Homo sapiens: one gene and its partners. The protein of the gene in region 2 purifies or fractionates together with the protein of the main gene of each other region. This does not show direct contact. Each region holds a gene or a part of one and is shown on either strand. Other genes may lie near its edges.

What was found.
Region 1: the proteins of LRRC8E (region 2) and DDHD2 purify together in Homo sapiens (affinity purification with mass spectrometry; 2 studies listed by BioGRID and IntAct, with this or other methods). This does not show direct contact.
Region 3: the proteins of LRRC8E (region 2) and TBC1D4 purify together in Homo sapiens (affinity purification with mass spectrometry; 2 studies listed by BioGRID and IntAct, with this or other methods). This does not show direct contact.
Region 4: the proteins of LRRC8E (region 2) and NPEPPS purify together in Homo sapiens (affinity purification with mass spectrometry; 2 studies listed by BioGRID and IntAct, with this or other methods). This does not show direct contact.
Region 5: the proteins of LRRC8E (region 2) and OPRPN purify together in Homo sapiens (affinity purification with mass spectrometry; one large-scale study listed by BioGRID and IntAct). This does not show direct contact.
Region 6: the proteins of LRRC8E (region 2) and DMD purify together in Homo sapiens (affinity purification with mass spectrometry; 2 studies listed by BioGRID and IntAct, with this or other methods). This does not show direct contact.
Region 7: the proteins of LRRC8E (region 2) and CLGN purify together in Homo sapiens (co-immunoprecipitation; one large-scale study listed by IntAct). This does not show direct contact.

Annotation. Positions count from the first base shown.
Region 1 is NC_000008.11:38,234,585-38,238,084, reverse strand, and holds part of DDHD2 (triacylglycerol hydrolase DDHD2), read right to left. Parts: intron 548-3,500; coding exon 458-547; intron 1-457. UniProt on the Homo sapiens protein: Diacylglycerol (DAG) and triacylglycerol (TAG) lipase required for proper lipid homeostasis in the central nervous system. It cooperates with PNPLA2/ATGL in neuronal TAG catabolism and hydrolyzes sn-1,3 DAG downstream of PNPLA2/ATGL.
Region 2 is NC_000019.10:7,891,510-7,895,009, forward strand, and holds part of LRRC8E (volume-regulated anion channel subunit LRRC8E), read left to right. Parts: intron 1-2,063; exon of another isoform or gene 2,064-2,350; intron 2,351-3,010; exon of another isoform or gene 3,011-3,500. UniProt on the Homo sapiens protein: Non-essential component of the volume-regulated anion channel (VRAC, also named VSOAC channel), an anion channel required to maintain a constant cell volume in response to extracellular or intracellular osmotic changes.
Region 3 is NC_000013.11:75,283,170-75,286,669, reverse strand, and holds the end of TBC1D4 (TBC1 domain family member 4), read left to right. Parts: 3' UTR 1-3,167; downstream 3,168-3,500.
Region 4 is NC_000017.11:47,593,608-47,597,107, forward strand, and holds part of NPEPPS (puromycin-sensitive aminopeptidase), read left to right. Parts: intron 1-2,745; coding exon 2,746-2,855; intron 2,856-3,500. UniProt on the Homo sapiens protein: Aminopeptidase with broad substrate specificity for several peptides. Involved in proteolytic events essential for cell growth and viability. May act as regulator of neuropeptide activity.
Region 5 is NC_000004.12:70,400,940-70,404,439, forward strand, and holds part of OPRPN (opiorphin prepropeptide isoform 1 precursor), read left to right. Parts: intron 1-3,500. UniProt on the Homo sapiens protein: Opiorphin is an endogenous inhibitor of neprilysin and aminopeptidase N. Inhibits the breakdown of substance P, Mca-BK2 and Met-enkephalin by neprilysin in vitro with IC(50) values of 29 uM, 33 uM and 33 uM respectively.
Region 6 is NC_000023.11:33,205,050-33,208,549, reverse strand, and holds part of DMD (dystrophin), read left to right. Parts: intron 1-3,500. UniProt on the Homo sapiens protein: Anchors the extracellular matrix to the cytoskeleton via F-actin. Ligand for dystroglycan.
Region 7 is NC_000004.12:140,407,149-140,410,648, reverse strand, and holds part of CLGN (calmegin precursor), read left to right. Parts: intron 1-22; coding exon 23-96; intron 97-753; coding exon 754-812; intron 813-3,500. UniProt on the Homo sapiens protein: Functions during spermatogenesis as a chaperone for a range of client proteins that are important for sperm adhesion onto the egg zona pellucida and for subsequent penetration of the zona pellucida.

The DNA of each region.
Region 1 (3,500 bases), on a different chromosome or scaffold from region 2:
AACAGAACAGATCAGAGCAATAAAAATATTCTGCAATACAATCATCTCTATACAATGCAGTTTTAAGTGTAGAATCATGTCTTTCAAACCACACAGTAAAATCTGAACTGGAGTTTTGATATACAACTCGTATGGCTTGAAATGAGAACCGTGAAAATATATTAGGCTAACAGATCTGTCAATAGTCCCTTTCTACATGGAAGACATGCTCACATAATATGTCAGTGATTTTCTTATTCTACAGTGGCATAATTTTCCATAAGAAAATTATTTTGTATAAGCTGAGTTGGGTAAATAACAGTAGTGGCTACAAGTTTTTAAGTTTCATAACTGTGAATTCAATATAAAATTTGACAAAGGTTATCCTACACAGAGTGCTTAGCAAAAGAAACCAATTGAGTTCTCCCTAATAGCGCAATTAACTTTTTATCCCGACAAGAGAAATGCTTTGTTTTACCTTTGGATTGTGTAAAATAATAATTTCTCTGTTGGGAGATTCCAGTTTCTTTTTCCATTCATCCAAAGTTACAGCAAGCATGTAAGTTTCCTTAAAAGAAAACACATTTCATTAGAGTTCTCTAGTAGCTTTCCTATTAAACTGAACCTATTAACAAGAATACTATGTATTAATGAGTTTCAATAAGAATATCCTACTCCAATTTATCAAATTTATTTTTAAATCTTTTTGTTGTTGTTGTTGTTTGTTTTGTTTTGTTTGTCTTACTCTGTCGCCCAGGCTGGGTTGCAGTGGCACAATCTCGGCTCACTGCAACCTCCGCCCCCCAGGTTCAAGCAGTTCTCTTGCCTCAGTCTCCCAAGTAGCTGGGATTACAGGCACCCGCCACCACATTCGGCTAACTTTTGTAGTTTTAGTAGATACGGGGTTTGGCCATAATGGCTAGGCTGGTCTCAAACTCCTGACCTCAGGTGATCTGCCTGCCTCGGCCTCCCAAAGTGCTGGGATTACAAGCATGAGCCACAGCACCCAGCCTATTTTTAAATTATTTTGAAATTACAACTGATAGTAGCACCAGGACAAAGGGGGAAAAATACTCCTAATTCCATCATCTACGCTAGATAATTAGTGTTCACATTTTAATATATTAATATTAATGTTCTAGACCAGGCGTGGTGGCTCATGCCTGTAATCACAATACTTTGGGAGGCCAAGGCAGGAAGATCACCTGAGGTCTGGCATTCGAGACCAGCCTGGCCAACACGGCAAAACCCCATTTTTACTAAAAATACAAAAATTAGCCAGTGTGAGCCGGGCGCGGTGGCTCACGCCTATAATCCCAGCACTTTGGAAGGCCAAGGCGGGTGGATCACCTGAGGTTGGGAGTTCGAGACCAGCCTGACCAACATGAAGAAATCCCATCCCATCTCTACTACAAATACAAAATTAGCCAGGCATTGTGGCACATGCCTGTAATCCCAGCTACTCGGGAGGCTGAGGCAGGAGAATCGCTTGAACCCAGGAGGCAGAGGTTGCGGTGAGCTGAGATCGCGCCACTACACTACAGCCTGGGAAACAAGAGTGGAACTCCGTCTCAAAAAAAAAAAATTAGCCAGTGTGGTGAGGCACGCTTGTAATCCCAGCTACTTAGGAGGGTGAGGCAGGAAAAGTGCTTGAACCCAGGATGCAGAGGTTGCAGTGAGCCGAGATCGCACCACTGGACTCCAGCCTGGGCAACAGAGTGAGACTCTGTCTCAAAAACAAAAACAAAAACAAAAACAAAAAAAGCAAAAAAAAAAAACCAAAAACAAGAAAAAGGCTGGGCGTGGTGGCTCACGCCTGTAATCCCAGCACTTTGGGAGGCCGAGGCGGGCGGATCACGAGGTCAGGAGCTTGAGACCATCCTGGCTAACACGGTGAAACCCCGTCTCTACTAAAAATACAAAAAATTAGCTGGGCGTGGTGGCGGGCGCCTGTAGTCCCAGCTACTTGGGAGGCTGAGACAGGAGAATGGCAAGAACCCAGGAGGCAGAGCTTGCAATGAGCCAAGATCGTGCCACTGCACTCCAGCCTGGGAAACAGAACGACACTCTTGTTTCAACAACAACAAAAAATACTAACGCTCTACTCCAATTTAAAGAAAAATTTCAGTTTTCAGAGCAAGAAAAATAAAAGCTAAAAAAGATCAATCCTGTGACCATAGCATAATACAGTTTGCATTTGTATTTGTGTGTGTGTGTGTGTGTGTGTGTGTGCGCGTGTACTTTTTTTTGTAGTGGTGGGGTCTTGCTTTGTTGCCCAGGCTGTTCTCAAATTCCTGGGCTCAAGTCATCCTCCTGCCTTGGCCTCACAATGTGCTGGGATTACAGGTGAGAGCCACTGTGCCCACCAGTTTTTTTTTTTTTTTTTGAGATGGAGTTTTGCTCGTTGCCCAGGCTGTAGTTCAATGGTGCGATCTCCACTCACCACAACCTCCACCTCCCGGGTTCAAGCAATTCTCTTGCCTCAGCCTCCCAAGTAGCTGGGATTACAGGCGTGCACCACCGTGCCCAGCTAATTTTGTATTTTTAGTAGAGACGAGGTTTCTCCATGTTGGTCAGGCTGGTCTCAAACTCCCAACCTCAGGTGATCCGCCCACCTCAGCCCCCCAAACTGCTGGGATTACAGGCGTGAGCCACCAGGCCCGGAGTATTTTTTTCTTTTTTTACACCTTAAAACACCACAACCATTTCCATCGTATTTTAAAATCTGAAAAAGGCCAAGCACAGTAGCTCACACCTGTAATCCCAGCACTTTGGGAGGCCGAGGCCAGCAGATCATTTGAGGTCAGGAGTTCGAGACAAGCCTAGCCAACATGGTGAAACCCCATCTCTAATAAAAATCAGTAGGAACAACTCTCCCATTACAATATTTTCCTTTCAAGGATTGAAAAGGGGAAAAGAAGTACATATTTCAAAATAAATCTCCCAACATACAATTCTGAGTTATATTCTAAATAATGTTATGAAACACATGAATGAACAGTTCCTACTTGGCTAAACACCAAACAAAATGGAATCTAATTCATATCTTTTTCACTACCTACTTTACAAACCGTCAAACCATTCCTGATTTTAATGAAACATGAAAAAAAATACTACCCAAACAGTTTTGTTCTTTTTCTGAGGAAAGATAGCAGTGCCCCTTAAAAAAAATTAGCCAGGTGTGGTGGCGGCCACCTGTAATCCCAGCTACTTGGGAGGCTGAGGCATGAGAATCACTTGAACCGGGGAGGTGGAGGTTGCAGTGAGCCAAGATCGCACCACTGCACTCCAGCCTGGGCAACAGAGCGAGACTCCGTCTCAAAAAAAAAAAAAAAATCTGAAAATAAGACTACTTTATCCTGAAACTTGCTTGTAAATAGAAATGCTTTATTATGTTTTATAATGTGATGCAGACAGAACCAAAGTCTTTCTGGAAATTTCACAAAATAAATTACAAAGGAAAGAAAAGATTATTAAATAAGAGAAAGAAAGAATAAGTAAAAAAAGAGTCAAAAGAATAC
Region 2 (3,500 bases):
TTGGTCCCTGCTCGGGTGTGTGTGTGTGTGTGTGTGTTTGTGTGTGTGTGTGTGTGTTGTGTGATTTCTTCTGCAGCCTCCAGAGTCAGGAGTTTTTGTTTTGTTTTGTTTTTTTGAGACGGAGTCTCGCTCTGTCGCCCAGGCTGGAGTGCAGTGGCGAGATCTTGGCTCACTGCAGCTTCTGTCTCCCGAGTTTAAGCAATTCTCCTGCCTCACTCTCCTGAGTAGCTGGGATTACAGGCATCCACCACCATGCCTGGCTAATTGTTTTTGTATTTTTAGTAGAGACGAGGTTTCACCATGTTGGCCAGGCTGGTCTGGAACTCCTGACCTCAAATTATCCGCCTACCTTGGCCTCCCAAAGTGCTGGGATTACAGGCGAGAGCCACCGCGCCCGGCCCCAGTCAGTAGTGTTTTGCTTGCTGTGTTTGAGATAGGGTCTTGCCCAGGCTGGTTCATGGCTCACTGCAGCCTCTAACTCCTGGGTTCAAGCAATCCTCCCACCTCAGTCTTCCAAGTAGCTGGGACTACAGGCATGCACCACCACACCTGGCAAGATTTTAGATTTTTTTTTTTTTTTTGAGACGGAGTCTCGCTCTGTCGCCCAGGCTGGAGTACAGTTGTGCAATCTTGGCTCACTGCAGGCTCTGCCTCCCAGGTTCACGCCATTCTCCTGCCTCAGCCTCCCAAGTAGCTGGGACTACAGGCGTCTGCCACTATGCCCGGCTAATTTTTTGTATTTTTAGTAGAGACGGGGTTTCGCCGCATTAGCCAGGATGGTCTCAATCTCCTGACCTCGTGATCCACCCACCTCGGCCTCCCAAAGTGCTGGGATTACAGGCGTGAGCCACCGCACCCGGCCCAAATTTTTAGATTTTTTTGTAGAAATGGGGTCTGACTATGTTGTCCTGGCTGCTCAAACTCCTGGGCTCAAGCAATCCTCCTGCCTCAGCCTCCCAAAGTGCTGGAATTACAGGCCTGAGCCACTGCACCCAGCCTGGGGTCAGCATTCTTAGGTAAAGCAACTGAGCAGTGTCCCTGCAGGATCCTTGGAGGACTCAATGGATGGCCGGAACCAAAACAGGACGTGAGGGTCCCTGGTGCTGGGTCCCTCCGAAGCTCAGTGTGTGTACTTGGACTTTATACCCTCGTGCACAAATATGCATGACCCAAAATGACCCCAAGCGTCCATTTTGGTGGGTGCAATGTACATATTCTTCCCCTGGGGACAGTTGAGCTATCCTGGTATGTTTCTACCAGATTACATACTGGTGACCCAGGCAGACTGGGATATTTGTAGTCGGGTTTCTTTTCTCTTCTCTTCTCTTTTTTAGAGACAGGGTCTTGCTCTGTCGCCCAGGCTGGAATGCAGTAGTGCAATCTTGGCTGACTGCAACCTCCGCCTCCCGGGTTCAAGGGGTTTTCGTGCCTCAGCCTCCCGAGTAACCGGGACTACAGGCACCCTCCACCATGACTGGCTGTTTTGTATTTTTATTTTTATTTTGTTTTAGTTTTGAGACAGAGTCTTGCACTATTGTCTGGGCTAGAGTGCAGTGGCGCAATCTCAGCTCACTGCAACCTCTGCCTCCCAGGTTCAAGCGATCCTCCTGCCTCAGCCTCCCTAGTAGCTGGGATTACAGGCACCTGCCACCACGCCCAGCTAATTTTTTGTATTTTTAGTAGAGACGGGGTTTCATCACGTTGGCCAGGCTGGTCCCTAACTCCTGACCTTGTGATTTGCCTGCCTCGGCCTCCCAAAGTGCTGGGATTACAGGCGTGAGCCACCGCACCTGGCTAATTTTTGTATTTTTAATAGAGACGGAGTTTCACCATGTTGGCCAGGCTGGTCTCGAACTCCTAACCTCAAGTGATCTGCCCACCTCGGCCTCCCAAAGTATACTTGGCTTTTTGCTTAGGGCAGGGAGTGTGAATGAGCATGAGGGCCAGGCCATGGTGCGAAGGACCCTGTGCTCTGGGCACCCCCTTGCATGGATCTGGGTCTGGGTGAGTCACTGCCTGAGTCAGGGAACCCATGACTTTTTTTTTTTTTTTTCCCGAGACAGAGTCTCGCTCCGTCTCCCAGGCTAGATTGCAGTGGCACGATCTCAGCTCACCACAACCTCCGCTTCCCGGGTTCAAGCGATTCTCCTGCCTAGCTGGGACTACAGGTTCATGCCACCATGCCCGGCTAATTTTTGTATTTTTAGAAGAGACGGGGTTTCACCATGCTGGCCAGGCTGGTTTCGAACTCCTGACCTTGTGATCCGCCTGCCTTGGCCTCCCAAAGTGCTGGGATTACAGACGTGAGCCACTGCGCCTGGCCCAACCTATGACATTTTACACTTGCATGGTGAGTCCCCGTGTGGGCAGGCTGTACCCACACCCTTGCCTGCCTATCTGATTCCCCAGACTGAAGTGGGGGCCTCTGAGGGGGTAAAAGGATGTGGTCTTTCGGGACTGCTTGGCCTTTAGCTTGGTGGGTGGAGCCTGTATCCTACCTTGTTTTAACCCAGGAGTCACCCCAAAATATGGGGGGGACACAAACTGAAAAGGGAGGCTCAGACATGTCAGAACCATTGGCTGAGTCGTGGGTCAGGGGACCAGGGTTTCCCTAGATTCTTCCTGGGGAGATGGATGGGGAGCCAGAGATAACTCCCTGATGGGCAGATGCCCTCCTTCTTGGCCCAACTCCTGTCCCGTTACAGATTATCTTTGTCTTTTGTTTTGTTTGTTTGAGATGGAGTCTCACTCTGTCACCCAGGCTGGAGTGCAGTGGCACGGTCTCACTTCACTGCCACCTCTGCCTCCCCGGATCAAGACCCTCCCACCTCAGCCTCCAGAGTAGCTAGGATTACAGGTGTGTGTCACCACACCTGGTTAATTTTTTGTGTATTTTTAGTAGACTCTGGGTTTCACCATGTTGGCCTCACTGGTCTCGAACTCCTAACCTCAAGTGATCCACCTGCCTCAGCTTCCCATAGTGCTGGGATTACAGGCATGAGCCACCGCGCCCAGCCCCAGTTACAGATTATCTATCTGGACAAGGACAGGAGGCTCCCAGGAGTGGGGGAACTTGGATGTTGGCAGAAGTGGGCTGGTCTAAGGTTCCCCACCTTCCTTGTTCCACCTCCAGCCTCTGGGGAAGTAGGTACCTGCCTGGGAGAGTGACATCTCAGCTCATGCCCCACGCCCCAGTGTGATTTGTGGCTGGCCTGTCTGTATCTGTAATAGTGATAGCTTGGTCTAAAAGGAGACCCTGGGAACAGACAGAGTGGGCCGGCCAGGAGCCTGACAGCACAGCCCTAGCCTGGTCGCAGATGTCACCTGACAACTTTCCATTTGCAAATCCTCCTTCCTCCTCGGACATCCGGACACCCCATTGCCCCCTCTCAGAGCCCAGGTCTCTGGTTTCTGCCTGTGATTCTGGGCTGTAGCCCCTTTAGAAACTCAGGTGTCCTGGTCACCTCCTACCCCCAGGGCTGACTAGCCTTCAGCTTGGC
Region 3 (3,500 bases), on a different chromosome or scaffold from region 2:
CGCCTAGTCACAGCAGGTGGACCTCGTGCTCATCAGAGCATGCCAATCCTAAGCCATTGGACATATGTAGACTGGTTTTTGTTGTTGCTATGTACATATAAATATATATATAAAATGAACATAGTTCATGCTTTCAGATAAAATGAGTAGATGTATATTTAGATTAATTTTTTTAGTCAGAACTTCATGAAATCCACACCAAAGGAAAGGTAAACTGAAATTTCCCTTGGACATATGTGAAATCTTTTTGTCTTTATAGTGAAACAAAGCCAGAGCATCTTTGTATATTGCAATATACTTGAAAAAAATGAATGTATTTTTTTCTCCAAAGAACAGCATGTTTCACTCAATGGTGAAAAGGTGGAAACATTTATGTAACTTTATGTGTATCTGTCTTGATATCTACTGACATTGTCTATATGAGGAAAATGATTACTGGTCATGCTCCTGTGAGTTTTTTGGGAAGGTAGGGTCATTTCTCCCTGCCTGCTTTGTGCCAACTAGCATGTTGCATCTACATGCATTATGAGTCTGGTTAGGCATTACTTTAAACATACATAAAGAGACAGTAGGACATTGTGGCTGAGTCTACCCAGCTCAAGGTAAAGGAGAATGTTGCTAATTTTTTAGCAAACTAGACCAGCATTATTACTCAAACTAAAAATATCACACCTGAAAAATTTAATTTAGGACCTAAAATGTCTAGATTAGCTTTCTGCTTTTTTTATTTGAATAACTCATTCAGTTGTGAATGAATTCCTCTTTATTTGGTGCCACAGTCACCAAATGACAAGGATTTGCCACTTTCCCACCAAATTGTGAGTGCTTGTAATTTAGGTCTCTCTACCTTAAATTCAGTATAAGGAAACGTAATTATGATTGATTTTTTCCAAAGATGACAAGCTGTGTTGAAATACATTTTTTCTTTTGACCAATTGACAGAATCTAATAAGCTTTAATAATCTTCCCCTTTTATGTGAAAAGTTTTGAGAACTGTGAAATGTTTAGGAACAAACTGTTGAAATCCATTGGAAGGGAAAAAAGAAAGTGGTACCAGTGTTACCAGCTCAACTAAAACCTGCAATTCTGCATTTCAACTCTTCACTTCCTCAGCCTACAAATAGCTCATTAGATGACATTCACGCATGCTGGGTATAGGCAAGGAAAGTAATTTTCAAAGTACATTTGCAGTTCTCTTTTTCAGAGATGATTCTATGATAGTGCCTCTGAAAGTTGATGCAGCATTTTTGCCTTTCCAAAAAGTATTTATCCTCACTGCTTTTTGCAGTACTTGTATTTTCACAGATGGATTATCTGGGGTAATTTTCTTCAAAGGGAGTTTGTTATACACAGTGAAAATGTATTATAGAGTAGAATAGTAAAGCTCTAGGGGTTTCAGAAAGCTTTGATGAACAGATGACAAACATCTGAAACCCCCTCCGCACTGTTACCCAGTGTGTATATAATGACTTGTTATAGCTCAGTGTGCCCTTGAATCCATACAGTTTCTTAAAAGACAATAAAATCTTATTAATAAAGTTAATGTAACTTCTAAGTTCTAGAAAATGCTGATTCTGTCTGCCCCATTCAATTGGGGGCTACTAATTGATTTGTTGCTTGGATTTCCTGAGAATTTCTCTATTTGTAGGAGGGGTTTTTTCTTTTTACGGTCTGTTGATGACAATTACTTTATGGGTGTGATGCACCGATGGTAGCCAAGGAATCTGTTGGGGAAGTTCGGAAAGAAACCTTTTCTTTCTTTTATTCAGTTTAAAGTAAACTTTATCCTGGATGTTTAGAATCAACATTAAGAGTTATATTATGGTGTTCAGAGATTAAGCTGACTTGGATACAATATTTTCTTTTGAAAATGAATTTTCTTTTTCATTTGTGATTTTTAAAAAATGTTGCACCAGTTATGCTTCATGCATCGTTACATCTTCATCAGGTTAATGTAATGTCTAGTTCCTTTGCAATAAATATATTGCTGCAGCTTTCTTGACGTATACTGTTACTTTTCGGGAGAGAAGCAGCTCTTGGTTAGAGTCTTTTACTGCAGGGGTCCCTGGGTACCTGTCTGTGGCCTGTTATGAACCAGGCTGCACAGCAGTGGTGGGCATGCGAGCAAGCATGACTGCCTGAGCTCTGACTCCTGTCAGATCAGCCACGGCATTAGATTCTCATAGGAGCGCAAACCCTATTGTGAACTGTGCATGCAGGAGATCTATGTTTTGTGTTCCTTAAGAGAATCGAATGCCTGATGATCTGTCACTGTCTCCCATCATCCCCAGATGGGATCGTCTAGTTGCAGGAAAACAGTCAGGGTTCCCACTAATTCTACATTATGGTGAGTATATAATAATAATATGGTGAGGATATAATAATAATAATAGAAATAAAGTGCACAATAAATGTGCTTGAATCATTGAATCATCCTGAAACCATCCCCTGCCACCAGTCTGTGGAAAGATTGTCTTCCATGAAACCAGTCCCTGGTGTCAAGAAGGTTGAAGACCGCTGCTTTACAAGATCTGCATGGTGAAACCCCATCTCTAGGGAAAATACAAAAATTAGCCAGGCGTGGTGGTGTGCATCTGTAATCTCAGCTACTCAGGAGAGTAGGAGAGGCATATATTGCTACTTATAGGAGGCTGGAGAATAGTTTGAACCTGGGAGGCGGAGCTTGCAGTGAGCTTGCAGTGAGCCATCATGCCACTGCACTCTAGCCTGGGCCACAGAGTGAGACTTTGACAAAAAAAAAGAAAAACAAACAACCAAACAAAAAAGATCTGCATGGTTTGGATTGTACCTACTTAAAATTGCTACACAAATAATTCTTCCTAATAGAGTCAGACAACAAAGATAATTTAGGAGACATTTATGTAAGTACATTGTTACCATTTTTCAACTTACTTTCTCAATGGAGACTTTTGAAAGAAAAATATAAGCAACCACATTGACAGATTTGCATTCTACCCTTTTATTTTCCAGGCCCCCTCATAGATAGCAAGGGAGAGAGAGCCACAAGAAAATACAAAATTTTCCAACTGGACGCAGATAATTAAGAATTAAGGACATTTACTGATGGATGTGATATGAATGTTTTTATATAAAATATGCATCTCTTGGAGTATTCTCATGTATATTTGTAATCCAATAAAAATACACTGTATCTTCTTGCTAACTTTAGGACTAACACTTTTAACTATTTTTTGCTTAATGTAGTAGTTAAGCATTTTGAGAAGGAGGCACTGTAGGCTTAATAGTACAGTCTCTTAATATCCATGTTGACTTTTACCCATTTTGTCACTATTTCACCAATTATTTTTTCACAGTACCAGATTAGGAGTAAGAAATCTACCATCTGATGGCATGAAGTATTTAGTCCTTCTACCATGATGTGACACTCTCATTATATTACTCATTAGCTGTGATATAATGAGAAAAGCACGGGATTTAGGGTGAGAAGTTTTATATCTGTGTCTTGGTTCCACCACTTT
Region 4 (3,500 bases), on a different chromosome or scaffold from region 2:
GGGATATGTTCTGAGAAATATGTTGTCAGGCAATTTCATCAATATGTGAACATCATAGAATGTACTTACAGAAACCTACACAGTATGTCCTAGGCTATGTACACCTAGCCTACATGGTATATACCCTGTTGCTGCTAGGCTACAAAATACCTGTACAGCATGTTACTGTACTGAATACCATAGGCAATTATAACACAATGGTATTTGTATACCTGAACATTTCTAAATATAGAAAAGGTACAGTAAAAATATGATATTAAAGATGCTCCACCAGCTGGCTGATATGCCTATAATCCCAGCACTTTGGGAGGCTGGGGCAGGTGGACTGCTTGAGTCCAGGAGTTTGAGACCAGCCTGGGCACCATGCCAAAACCTCGCTTCTATAAAAAGTACAAAAATTAGCTGGGTGTGGTGGCATGTGCCTGTAGTCCCAGCTACTTGGGAGGCTGAGGTAGGAGGATCACTTGAGCCTGGGAGGTCAAAGCTGCAGTGAGCTGTGATTGGGCCACTGCACTCCAGCCTGGGCAACAGCGAAACGCGGTCTCAAAAGAAAATAAGGTGCTACACCTGAATGCAGCTTATAGGACAACTTATAGAGGTTGTTCTAGTTGAGTGAGTGGTGAGTGAATATGAAGGCCTAAGACATTACTATACACTACTATAGATATTATAAATACTTTACACTTAGGCTACACTGAATTTATAAAAATAATTTTTCTTTCTTGAATAATAAATTAACCTTAGCTTACTGTAACATTTTAAATTTACTTTTTAATTTTTTTAACTTTTTGATTCTTTTCAATTCTTTTTTTTTTTTTTTGAGACAGAGTTTCGCTCTTGTTGCCCAGGCTGGAGTGCAATGGTGCAGTCTTGGCTCACCACAACCTCCGCCTCCCGGGTTCAAGTGATTCTCCTGCCTCAGCCTCCTGAGTAGCTGGGATTACAGGCATGTGCCACCACGGCCGGCTAATTTTGTATTTTATTTTATGTTATGTTATGTTATGTTATGTTATGTTATGTTATGTTATGTTATGTTATTTTTTGAGACGGAGTCTCGCTCTGTCGCCCAGGCTGGAGTGCAGTGGCGCGATCTCGGCTCACTGCAAGCTCCACCTCCCGGGTTCAGGCCATTCTCCTGCCTCAGCCTCCCGAGTAGCTGGGACTACAGGCGCCCGCCACCACGCCCGGCTAATTTTTTGTATTTTTAGTAGAGACAGGGTTTCACTGTGTTAGCCAGGATGGTCTCGATCTCCTGACCTCATGATCCGCCCGCCTCTGCCTCCCAAAGTGCTGGGATTACAGGCGTGAGCCACCGCGCCTGGCCTATTTTATTTTTTTTAAAGACAGGGTCTTGCTCTGTCGCCCAGGCTGGAGTGCAGTGGTGCAGTCTTGGCTTCGTTGCAACCTCCGCCTCCTGGGTTCAAGTGATTCTCCTGTCTCAGCCTCCCAAGTAGCTGGGATTACAGGTGTGTGCCACCATGCCCAGCTAATTTTTGTATTTTTAGTAGAGACAGGGTTTCACCATGTTGGCCAGGCTGGTTTCGAACTCCTGACCTCAGGTGACGTGCCCACCTCGGCCTCCCAAAGTGCTGGGATTGCAGGTGTGAGCCACTGCACCCAGCCTAATTTTGTATTTTTAGTAGAGATGGGGTGTCTCCATGTTGGTCAGACTGGTCTTGAACTCCAGACCTCAGGTGATCCGCCCGCTTTGGCCTCCCAAAGTGCTGGGATTATAGGCATGAACCACTGCGTCCAGCCTGGATATTTTTAAAGTGAGGTTAATTGAATGGGTATAACGGTCTTAAGTTTGTCAGTGATTGTTTAGTAGTGATCTTGAACACATTTCAATTTCTTTGTTTCTCCTTAACTCATCTGTTTATCTTTTATTATAATTTGTAATTTTTCTTATAAATTAGAATGATTAAGTATATCTCAGAATAAAAGACCAGTTTTGGCCAGGTGTTATGACTCACACCTGTAATTCCAGCACCTTGGGAGGCTGAGGCAGGTGGATTGCTTGAGCCCGGGATTTTGAGACCAGCCTGGGCAACATGGTGAAATCCCATCTCTACAAAAAATTGCAAGAAATTATGGGCCAGGTGCGGTGGCTCATGCCTGTAATCCCAGCACTTTGGGAGGCCGAGGCAGTGGATCACCTGAGGTCAGGAGTTCAAGACCAACCTGGTCAACATGGCGAAACTCCATCTCTACTAAAAATACAAAAATTAGCTGGGTGTGGTGGCACATGCCTGTAATCCCAGCTACTCAGGCACCTGAAGCAGGAGAATTGCTTGAACCTGGGAGGCAGAAGTTGCAGTGATCTTAGATCATGGCACTGCACTCCAGCCTGGGCAACAGAGCAAGACTCCATCTCAAAAAAAAAAAAAAAAAAAAAAAAAGCCAGGTGTTGTGGTGTGCACCTGTAGTCCCAGCTACTCAGGAGGCTGAGGAGGGAAGATCACCTGAGTCTGGGAGGTCGAGGCTGCAGTGAGCTGTGATTATGCCACTGCACTCTAGCCTGGGTGATGAAGTAAGACCGTATCTCAAAAAATACCAGTTTTTATGATAGAATTTACTTAGTTGCAGAAGAGGGGTGGCAAGGGGAATGTTAATTTGGCTCACTGTTTCCTGAACCTGAAAGAACCAAAGAATTAGCAGTGTAGTGTCAAAAGTTAAATAAAATTTCTTTTTTGTTTAGGAAAATAAAAATATAAACATTTTAGATTATCATTGTTTATCTTCTAGAGGATCTCTGGGAAAGTTTAGAAAATGCTAGTGGTAAACCTATAGCAGCTGTGATGAATACCTGGACCAAACAAATGGGATTTCCCCTCATTTATGTGGAAGCTGAACAGGTAAACATATAAAGTCTTTCCATTTGTCTGATATTGTATTAAATGAAGTTCAGTACAGTGTATCAAGTTTGCTTTTCTGTACTTTAAGTTTTCTAGTGACATTTAAACCAGCCCTGTTACTCTTTTATCAGTAATTTTACAGCTTGCATCATTAAAATTATACATGCTTAAGAGAGAAAACAAAATGTTACTTGCTTGTCTAGTCTCCAGGGAAAATACTGTAAAATTTGATATAATTCTAAAACCACCAAATATGGTTTATTCTACAAATGCAAGGTTGGTTTAACATTTTTTAAAAAATTAGGCCGGGCGTGGTGGCTCACGCCTGTAATCCCAACACTCTGGGAGGCCGTGGCGGGTGGATCACTTGAGGTCGGGAGTTTGAGGCCAGCCCGGCCAATGTAGTAAAACCCTGTCTCTACTAAAAATACAGAAATTAGCTGAGCATGGTGGCACACACCTGTAATCCCAGCTACTCTGGAGACTTAGGCAGGAGAATTGCTTGAACTCGAGAGGTGGAAGTTGCAGCGAGCCGAGATTGTGCCACTGCACTCCAGCTTGGGCAACAGAGCGAGACTTCGTCTCAAAAAAAAAAAAAAATCAATGTATTGATTTATAATCACTACATAAACAGAATCAAATGCA
Region 5 (3,500 bases), on a different chromosome or scaffold from region 2:
AGAGGTTGTTGACTAGAATACTTCTCAGAGACAATAATAGAGGAAATGCTGTCTTTGATTCTCTATCTACAACCTTCTGTTTCATACTGAGGACAGACAACTTCTGAGGAGTCCTACATAAAGCATCTACCTTGAGGATTCATATGAATTAATGGCATATTTTTATTCCAGAAGCCTGAATTGCAAGACAAATGTAACTTAAATTCTTTTCTACCTTGAAAGAGTATAGAATCCCATTTATATAAGAAGCAGAGGATTCCATGTCCTAAAAAAACATGAGTTTAATACATAAATTTTCTCATGTTAGAATTAAATATTATTGGATATAAGAAAACAAGAACCACAAGACATAATTTTAAGGTCACTCTAGCAAAAATTTCTTGCTGTATTCATTGTCTCATGAGAAGTTGGTAAATCTTAACAACAGTCTTAAGCATTAGTCTAAATAAAGAAACTTTATTGTACTTAGCATCTAGAACTTTCAATATATCAGAGATTATCTTTTATGAGATAGGGACTATCTAGGATTTAAATTAAAAATAACAGTTCATATTTGTATATTTACAATGTACTCTGGAGCACAGTTTTACCCTCAAACCTCACAAAAACCCAGGAACTATTTGGGATGCTCCTTTACATAGCACAGAGCTGAACATGAGACAAACCCTCAATAAGTATTAGGGGAATGACACAACAAGTGAATGGGCCTTTGTGTAGTTGACGCCAAGTAATAACAAATAGGTTTCAGAGTCTTACCTGTTCATTCATGCCATTGGATAGGCTATATGAAGTATGACACAGGGATGGATAATAGGCCAAGTGTAAGCTCAAAGGTAAAGTATCTCATGGTGGACAAGGATATCTGCCATGCTCACAAGATGAGTAACGACAGCATTTTTGCCAATACCTGCCATCCCTAACTTAGAGAAGACTTTGTTTGCAGCACAATCTGTCCACTAAACTGCTGTCAGCTGTCAGTTGGTTAAGCTGTCAGTCTGGCAGTTTCTAATCCTTAAGAATAGGAAATAGAAGTTTAAAAAAAGTAAAAAGTAAAATAAACTTAAAAACAGAACATAAATAAAATACTTTACAGAAAGGGCTATGATAAAATAATTGCCAAAAGCAAAGCAAAACCTTTAGCCTGAACTAAACCAACGATAAGCAGATATCAAATAACCGAAGACAGACAGTGGTTCTCCAAACTCTACAAACTCTAGAAACTCTATCAGGAACACAAATCATCTAGGGATTTTGTAGAACTGCAGACTCTGATCCAGTAGGTCTGCCTGAGCCCCATAAGTCTACATTTCTAACAAGCCCTCAGGTGATACTGGTGCTGATCTGTTGGTCAGCAAATAACATTTTGAGTAACAAGGCCCTGGTCAACTGAGAAATCAAACAGAGAAAGGCTGAGGACTTCTTACGGGTTTGTATAAATGCTCAAATGTTGTCACGGGAAAGGATTACGCTCCTTGCCATGTGCAAGGAAGGAAATGGCATTCTGAAATCAAGTAAGAGAAATTTCTGCTTATCACCAAATATGGGGAATTCATTCAACCCAAAATACTTATTGAGCACTTATTGTTTGCCAGGCACTATTCTAGATGTTGGGTAAACAGCAGTGAACAAAACAGACAAAAAGTTTCTAACCTCATGGAGCTTATATTCTACTTGGGGAAGACAAGCCATAAACAAAATAACTGACTATGTAATGCAGAAAATTTGGGAAGAAGGAATTTTAGGAGGAGGTAGAACAAGGATGTGATTTTAGATAGGGTAGCCCAGTGGAAAATGGCATTTGATTAAAGACCTGAAGTGGGTGAAAAAGCCAACCATGCAAGCAGAGGAAACAGGGAGTTCCAAAGTCTGGAGTAGGGTACACTTGCCTAGTGTGAAGAATAAGGAGGCTAGCATGGCTGGTAGAGAGTGAGATGGGAAGAGAGGAGCAGGAGGTGATACTAGAGAGTTAGAGGAGGGTGAGGCTGCATCAGGTCTCATGGGCTTTTGCAGAGCCTTAGTTTTACTCTGAGTGACATGCAAAACTTTAGTACATGAAGTCAGTACAAAACCTCAGAAAGATGCCGTCTCTTCCCACACACTCTTGCTTTCCATCATCCATAATGATTTGGAGAAAAAAAATGAAACTTCTAAAATATCTGAATGGCATCCATAAATATTTACTTAAAGTCACCTACAGCTTAAGAAGGATACAAACACTGATAAACATGACCTCTAACTTCAAGGGGTATATGACTGTCAGAGGATACAAGATAGATTGGTAATAATAGCCAGAGCAGGAGTTGACAAACTTTTCTGAAAAGGGCCAGATAACAAATATTGTAGGCTTCTGTGGGCCTGTAATAAGTGGTCAACTTGGCTGAGGTAGCTTGAAAGCAGCTACAATAAACGAATGGGCATGGTTATGTTCCAGTAAAACTTTATTTACCAAAACAGGCAAACTACATTTGGCCCACAGCCTTAGTTTGCTAACTCCCAGTCTACAGAGACAGTGAACAAGGCAATATGGCATGTAAAAACCTGATATTTCATTTACAAAATAATCATAAAATTAACCCAACATTATTCATGAGTTTGCAAAAAATATTTATGTTTCATTGAAACATGTTTGCATGTTTGTGTGCATGCAAAATACTATGCTAAATTATTTGTCATTTTAATTATTTTTTCTAAAGAACATCATGTGATAGATACTATTACTTTCTCTCTTTTAAAGATAGGAAAAGTAACAGAGAGGTTACATAACTTACCCAAATTCACATAACTTGTGAATGGAGAAACAAAATTTTAACTTGCCTTGATCTATTTGCCTATCTTCTGCCTTTTCTTCTATTATCTGGGATGGACTAAAATCAACCCAATATATTCTAAGACCAACCCCTCAACTTGTACACTAGATCCCATCCTCTCCCCTAAGCAAGGAGATTCCTGCAATTATCCTGCAATTATCTACTCTAAATCTAAATATCAGCAATTTTTCCTTCTCTCTATTGATTGTTCCTACTAGCACATAAATATGAGGTAATATCATTTATATGTTTGTTTTCATACTCCACTGATCTTATGGCTCCCATCATGGTCCATTTGAAAAAGTTGCCTCTGTACATCTTCACTTCTTTTCCTGTTCTGTCTTAAGCCTACTCCAAGCAGACTTTGCCCACATCATTTGGATGAAACCACATTTGTCAAATTGTACTCAAAATGGCCAGGCGTAAGGGTCAGCTTTCAGTCCCCATGATAATTATGTCTAAATTGTATTTGACATGATCAGTCTCCTACTTAAAGAGTTTTTTCTTTTTCCTCAACTCCACTCTCCTGATTTTTCTCCTACTTCAATGACGACTCCTTGTTGGTCTCCTTCTCCAGACACATCTCCTCTTCCTGATCTCTAAATGTCAGAGTCTCCCAGGACACCATCTTCTTACCCTTTCTCCATCTATGAGCACAAATCCAGTTGCTCAAGCCAAAAAAAACTTGAAATC
Region 6 (3,500 bases), on a different chromosome or scaffold from region 2:
AATGAGACTAATGTACATTCCCTGTCTGACAACACAGAACGAACCAGGAAGAAAGGATTTATGGGGCCTGAGGTTATACAATTGGGGGTGCTATTTTAAGAAAAATAATAGAAAATTGGATACAGCCTTGGGAGGGGCCCCTCATGTAAGTAAGGCTTTAATAGTTTCTTGGGAAATCACCTCTGTATGAAGAGATGTGTTGACATTTAATCTTTTCCCAGTTACATTTTAAAATAAAATTGATGCTAGTTATATTTCTTTAGAGCATTTATTATTTCTCAAAGACAACCTTTTATTTAATGCAGATTAGAGAGTTAAAAGAATTTATAATGGTAGGAATTTGACATTTCTGCCTTTCATTCTGAAAAGATACATTGATTAAAGTGATGTCAAACTCAGTTAATGGAGGCGGTGCAGTTATTTGAAATATACAGGGTATATAATTTGAAGGCACGCCAAATCACAATGACAAGGAATAATGATGACCTTGGTTTATTTTTATACAGTACATTCAGGTTTTGATTGGATTCAGAGAGAGGCAATGGTTTTCTTTCTCACAAAGTCCTGCTATAGTCCTAGGAGGTTTGTGTTCTGTTATCAAGGCAGTTGGTTCGTATTGGAATATTTTCTGGGGAAGGTCATGGGCTGCAGTGTGGGAAATAAACGTTTTTATTAAATGCAACCAGGTTTCATGAAAATATTTCCCCTTGTAGAGTGTGCTCAATGCAGTATACTGATCTTCAAAAAACAAACAAACCAAGCAAATAAATAGTTTGTAGTCTTCACCTTTTCCCTACGTAAAACATCTATTAGTTAGACTTCCTTGGGGTTTCATGCTATAAAATATTGACATATGTTTGGAGTTCTGAAGTTTCATTTTAATACAGATATCAAAGTTAAAATGGCAACACCATGGGATAATTTATTATTTTACCAAGTTTGGAGGGTTTTTTCTATTTATGTCACTTATAGAATTGTCCCTAAAATCCTTGCAAAATTTCAAGCTCCCTCTACTTAATACTAAAAGTGAATGTGTCTTCCAGAGATTCTGATAACCCCTTCGAATGGGAGAGTAACTCTGCTATTTGTGAATCACTCCTATACTAAATATAGTTCCAAGATTAAAAGCTAAAATGATTTTGTTTATTTTTTCATGAAATTTTTTCATGAAAGGCTTGATAGTATAAAAAGTCTGTTTCCCTCATATATTACAGCATATTATAGCATTCAATGTGCCTTCTTAAACCAGATGGCTCCTCTAGAGATTATGAAATACTTTAACACCCAGGGCATAGCCTTTCTGTTTCCCCATTCAAGATTACTTCCTTGAATATGGCCCAACAAAAAGACCAAAAAAATACATTTGGCTCCAGCGTTTTAAGGGCATATAAATTTTCTTAAGCACAATTCTGATAGGCAGCAGACAAATGAGAATGAGGAAGGGAAATGGCTCTGCTGTCTTATGCTTAAAAGTGTCCTCATATAGAGAGAAACAACACACCCTGGGGCCTTTCGGAGGGTAGAGGGTTGGAGGAGGAAGAGGATCAGGAAAAGCAACTAATGGGTACTAGGCTTGATACCTGGGTGATGAAATAATCTGTACAGCAAACCCCTATGGCACAAGTTTACCTATGTAACAAACCTGCACTTGTAGCCCTGAACTTAAAAGTTAAAAAAAAATAAAATAAAAAGAGTCCTCATCTCACGGCCATACAACCTCTACCTCATTCCCATTAAAAACACAAAGATCAGTACTCCCTCTTTTATAGCTCACATCTTCTGTTTAGGCTGCCATTTTAAGGGATAATTTCTATTCAACTCTGAGCTCGATCTTTATTTTAATCTGATATCACTCGTTCAAAATACTTGGGAATTTCAGTAGGCAACGGAACACACAGAGCAATTTTCTGGAGGCCTACAACCTCTGAAGGTGACTTTGCGTAGTATATGTAATGATAGTAAGCCCTGAGAAAACCAATGTTCTTAGTAGTCTGGATTTGGTTTAGAAATCAATGTATTCCTGCTTTCTTTTGTGATCTTTTGCCTTCTCCCTCAATGCCTCACTTTCACTCTGTCATTATGAACCCCATTCCTCACTAATGGGAACTGGGGGAGAATGGACAATGATCCTTTAATTGAAATGGAGTTGTCATTTCCTTGCCATGCTGATAAAATGTTGTTGCTGTTGTTGTTTGTTGTTGTTCTTAAATGACTCTTTCAGAATTTTTAACTCAGTATTTTGATTACATACCATTTTAAGAAAATAATTGTCCATAAATTAAAAATGCTAGCAAATTGATGAATTGATTTTCTCATGCCAATTTGGAAATCTGAAATATATCTAAGACTGGTGAATAATATGTAGGTCTAATTGCCATTTGAATAAAAGAATCTGAGGAAGAGCTTTGCCTTTATTTTTGTTTATTATTCATTTTAGTTTAGTTATTTATTTTAGTAGAAAAATGTGGTTGTGTCAACGAAGAGGAGGTACATTAAAATGCATTATTAAAGCCAATGCTTATCCATGTAATGAAATGAGAATGTAGATGGCTTAATGGGTTTTGGAGAGGATTAAGATAATTTTAAAGAAACTTCAAAAAATCAGATGCTCGAATCATGATGTTTTTTGTTTATATTTAATAAATATGAAAACCATACATGGGCATATCAACAATGAGGAATTCACATATATATCACGAAGTCTCTTGCTAATTTGTCAACTTTTAAATGTGTTGTCTTCACTATCATGAAAATTTTGATTTTTAAAAAAGGTCAGTGTTAGCTGAGCACAATTACCATTACGGTGTCCCATATTATTTCCAATTATGGGCAAATAAAATGCTTACCCTTTAAATGTTTTTACCCTCTTCTTGGCTTTTGTTTTGTTTTGTTTTAAAGCGTTCTCCCTTCTTCCACTCTGCTTTTGGCTAAGACTGTCATGGAATCAGGACTATAAAAGGGCATAAACATCAGTAGCTTTTTTCTCATTCCTGGCACTCATCTTTATTTGCACTCAACTTGTCTCTTCCTTTATCAGATTACGGTTGCAATAGTACCTTAGCCTGAGCTAAGTGCTGACTTAAAGGGCAAGGGAGTCAGTACACTGTTACAAGTGCAGATTTTAGCCTTGGAAGCTGTGTGAGGAAAAATTAAAGAAATAAGAAAGAAAAATCACAAAATCAGAATGGCCCACGTATTTTCATCAAAGGCAAATTGAGTAATTCCTTTTTATGTTGGTGCTTAAGAACGATGTATTAGAAATAAATTGGTGACTAAGTGAACAAAATATTAATAAACTAGTTGAGTAAGTGAAAAAATAATAATCTGTAAAAATGATGAATCCCAATGACTCACATGTTGCAAAATAACTAGGAAGCAAAAGGGAAATTAGACTTTAAAGAGCGTAATCAGATGCAAGAAATGTTGGCTTGTAGGTGGTTAACTAAAATCGCTTACGGGAAGCTCAGACAGCTGGGGAATCCTGATTTAGTAGACGCTGA
Region 7 (3,500 bases), on a different chromosome or scaffold from region 2:
ACTTGGAAAATCTCTTTTCTAGATTAAATATAAGACACCTCAACCTATAGGAGAAGTATATTTTGCAGAAACTTTTGATAGTGGAAGGTTGGCTGGGTGAGTATTCATTCAAGAGAATGTTTTCTTTGATTTATTAGCTTTTTTGAAGTTATTAGGTTTTGGCCTATGAAAATTATCTCTACTACAGATCTATAAAAAATTTTAAAGTAGTTTAATTGACAATGTAAATCAGTACTTAGTATATTTTTGTAATTGATAGAATGTTTAATTTGAATAGTTATTTATTCAAAGAAAATATACTAATTCCGAATGCAAAGATGAAATTTATAACATTTCTTTATTCTCTAGGACAGATTAACACTCTTAAGTTCAGATGACAAATATGAGTACTGCTCTACTCTAAATAATGGAAAAAACAAAAGTTAATATTAAATGATTATTATGTGTCAGATGTCCTTAAAAAAAGTAGATAATTACCATATTTAATCCCCATTTTACAGGTGGAGAAACCGAGGTTTCTTGTACCTTACCTGTGATCATACAGCTAGTAAATTATAGATTCCAAATTCGGTTTAACTCTAGCCCTTCAGGATTATGTGTAGGCATCCTTATTTAGCATCTAAGTATGAATTTATTGTTGAATGAAAAGTGACTGTATTGGGTGATCTTTTATTGTGTTTCTGTATGCCTTATATCTATAAATTGCTGCTTTTATTGTCAATGACATATATGTATGTTCAACTTTATTTACAGATGGGTCTTATCAAAAGCAAAGAAAGATGACATGGATGAGGAAATTTCAATATACGATGGTAAAATATTTATTTAAGTATTAGATATAACCAGTATGGCCTGGAGTTCACTAAACTTTGAGATTAGATTTTTGTTAAATTGTGTTGGCTGGAGTCCCCCACCCTGCCTCACAATAAAATGTTCAGTCTTTTATCTTGTCCCTCTTCAATATTTCTGAAAAACCCTTCGCTATTTCTGAAAATCTCACTCTTAAGCCAGTTAATCTAGTTTTCTAACTGAACAGTTGAATTTTCACTCTACTGCTGTTAGTCTTTTGCATTTCCTGAAGCAGTATTTCCCAGGCTACTGCTGTCTCTATGGTTTCATCTCAAGCATAGACACACCTTGATCTATAAATTAAATAAATTATAATTTATGGTAAGATTCTCCTAGCAAGTAAAAAGCAGAAGATAGCTAATGAGAGCTACAAGATATGTGGCTGCTTCTGGAATCCTCATCTCCAGGTCTATATCCATTATCATAGGGTGTCTAATAGGATTATCTTCAACCTTAGCTCTAGAAAGAAATGTCCTATAGGCAGGGGTCATATTGTCTTCCCTAATAGGACTACCCTAGAGTATGACCAAATATTTTCTTCTTTGTGGTCTAAAAACCAGCCTCCTTGATTGTTATATGCTGAAGCAAGATCAGCCTCTTCTCACAGTGACTGATAGTGGTAATTTCTTCTTTCTCAGAGGACCTCATACTCATAAACATGTGGCCCTGCACTCAGACTCTGATAAGCAGTTACATCACAACAGCAAAACAGATAGCATGTTGGATGTCAGCTGTCTGCTTCCTTTTCATAGTTTCTGTTTAGTGTAAGATAAAGATCATACCTGCATGTCTTCCTTTGCATGGTGTTCGCCATCCCAGCAAATCCCCTGTGTATATATATACACATATATACATATATACACAAATATATATACATATACACATATATGTGTGTATATATATGTGTGTGTGTGTATATATATATATATATATATATATGCTTATCAACTCCAAAAAGGACACCACCATATGCACAGAAAAAGCAGTAGTGGGATTTCTGGATCAAATAGTAGATCTACTTTCAGTTTTTTAATAAACCTCCATGCTGTTTTCCATAGAGGCTGTATTAATTTACATTGCACCAGCAGTGTATAAATGTTCCCTTTTTACCACATCCATGCCAATTGTTTTTTGACTTTTTAATAATGGCCATTCTTACAGGGGTAACGTAGTATCTCATTGTGGTTTTAATTTGCATTTCCTTGATGATTAGTGATGTTGAGCATTTTCTAAACATGTTCGTTGGCCATTTCTATATCTTCTTTTGAGAAATGTCTATTTATGTCATTTGCCTACTTTCTGATGGGATTAATTTTTTTCTTGCTGATTTGTTTGAGTCTCATGATTCTGGATACTAGTCCTTTGTCAGATTCATAGGTTATTAATATTTTCTCCCACACTGTGGGTTATCTGTTTACTCTGATGATTATTTCTTTCGCTGTGCAGAAGCTTTTTAGTTTAATTAGGTCCCATTTATTTATTTTTGTTTTTGTTGCATTTGCTTTTGGGTTCTTGGTCATGAATTCTTTGCCTAAGCCAATGTCTAGAAGAGTTTTTCTGGTGTTATCTTCTAGAATTTTCATGGTTTCAGATCTTAGGTTTAAGTCTTTAATCCATCTTGAGTTGATTTTTGTATAAGGTGACAAGTAAGGATCCAGTTTCATTCTTCTATATGTGGCTTGCCAGTTTTCTCAGTACCATTTATTAAATAGGGTGTCCTTTCCCTAATTTATATTTTTGTATGCTTGGTCAAAGATCAGTTAGTTGTAAGTATTTTGCTTTATTTCTGGTTCTTTATTCTGTTCCAGTGGTCTATGTGTCTACCTGAGACCATTACCATGCTGTTTTGATAGTATGGCCCTGTATAATTTGAAGTCAGGTAATGTGATGTCTCCAGATTTGTTCTTTTTGCTTAGGATTACTTTGGCTATTCAGGCTCTTTTTTGGTTCCATATGAACTTTTGGATTTTTTTTCCTAATTCTGTGAAAAATGTTTTTGGTATTTTCACAATAATCACACTGAATCTGTAGATGGCTTTGGGCGCTATGATCATTTTCATGATATTGATTCTTCCAATCCATGAGCATGGGATGTGTTTCCATTTGTTTGTGTCATCTATGATTTTTTTCAGCAGTGTTTTGTAGTCCTCCTTGTATAGATAGATCTTTCACCTCTGTTAAGAATATTCCTAGGGATTTTTTTTTTTTTTTTTGCAGCCATTGTAAAAGTCATTGAGTTCTTGATTTGATTTTCAGTTTGGTCGTTGTTGCTATGTAGCAGTACTACTGATTTGTGTACATTGATTTTGTAAGCTGAGACTTTTATTGAATTGATTTTTCAAGTCTAGTAGTCTATTGGATGAGTCTTTTGGGTTTTCTAGGTATGCAATCATATCATTAGCAAACAGTGATAGCTTGACTTCCTCGTTTCCAATTTGTATGTCCTTTATTTCTTTCTCTTGCCAGATTGCGCTGGCTAGGACTTCCAGATAAAGTTGTTACTTCTTAAAATAAGACCTTTATAGGGGGCGAGAGGCAAACTACAAGTTAGTGATAATACAATTCACCATCAATGTGAGAGAAAGAAAACCAAGTACATTAATCTTTTTCAAAAAAATATAATATGACCAAATCAGGGGGAGAAAGAAAAG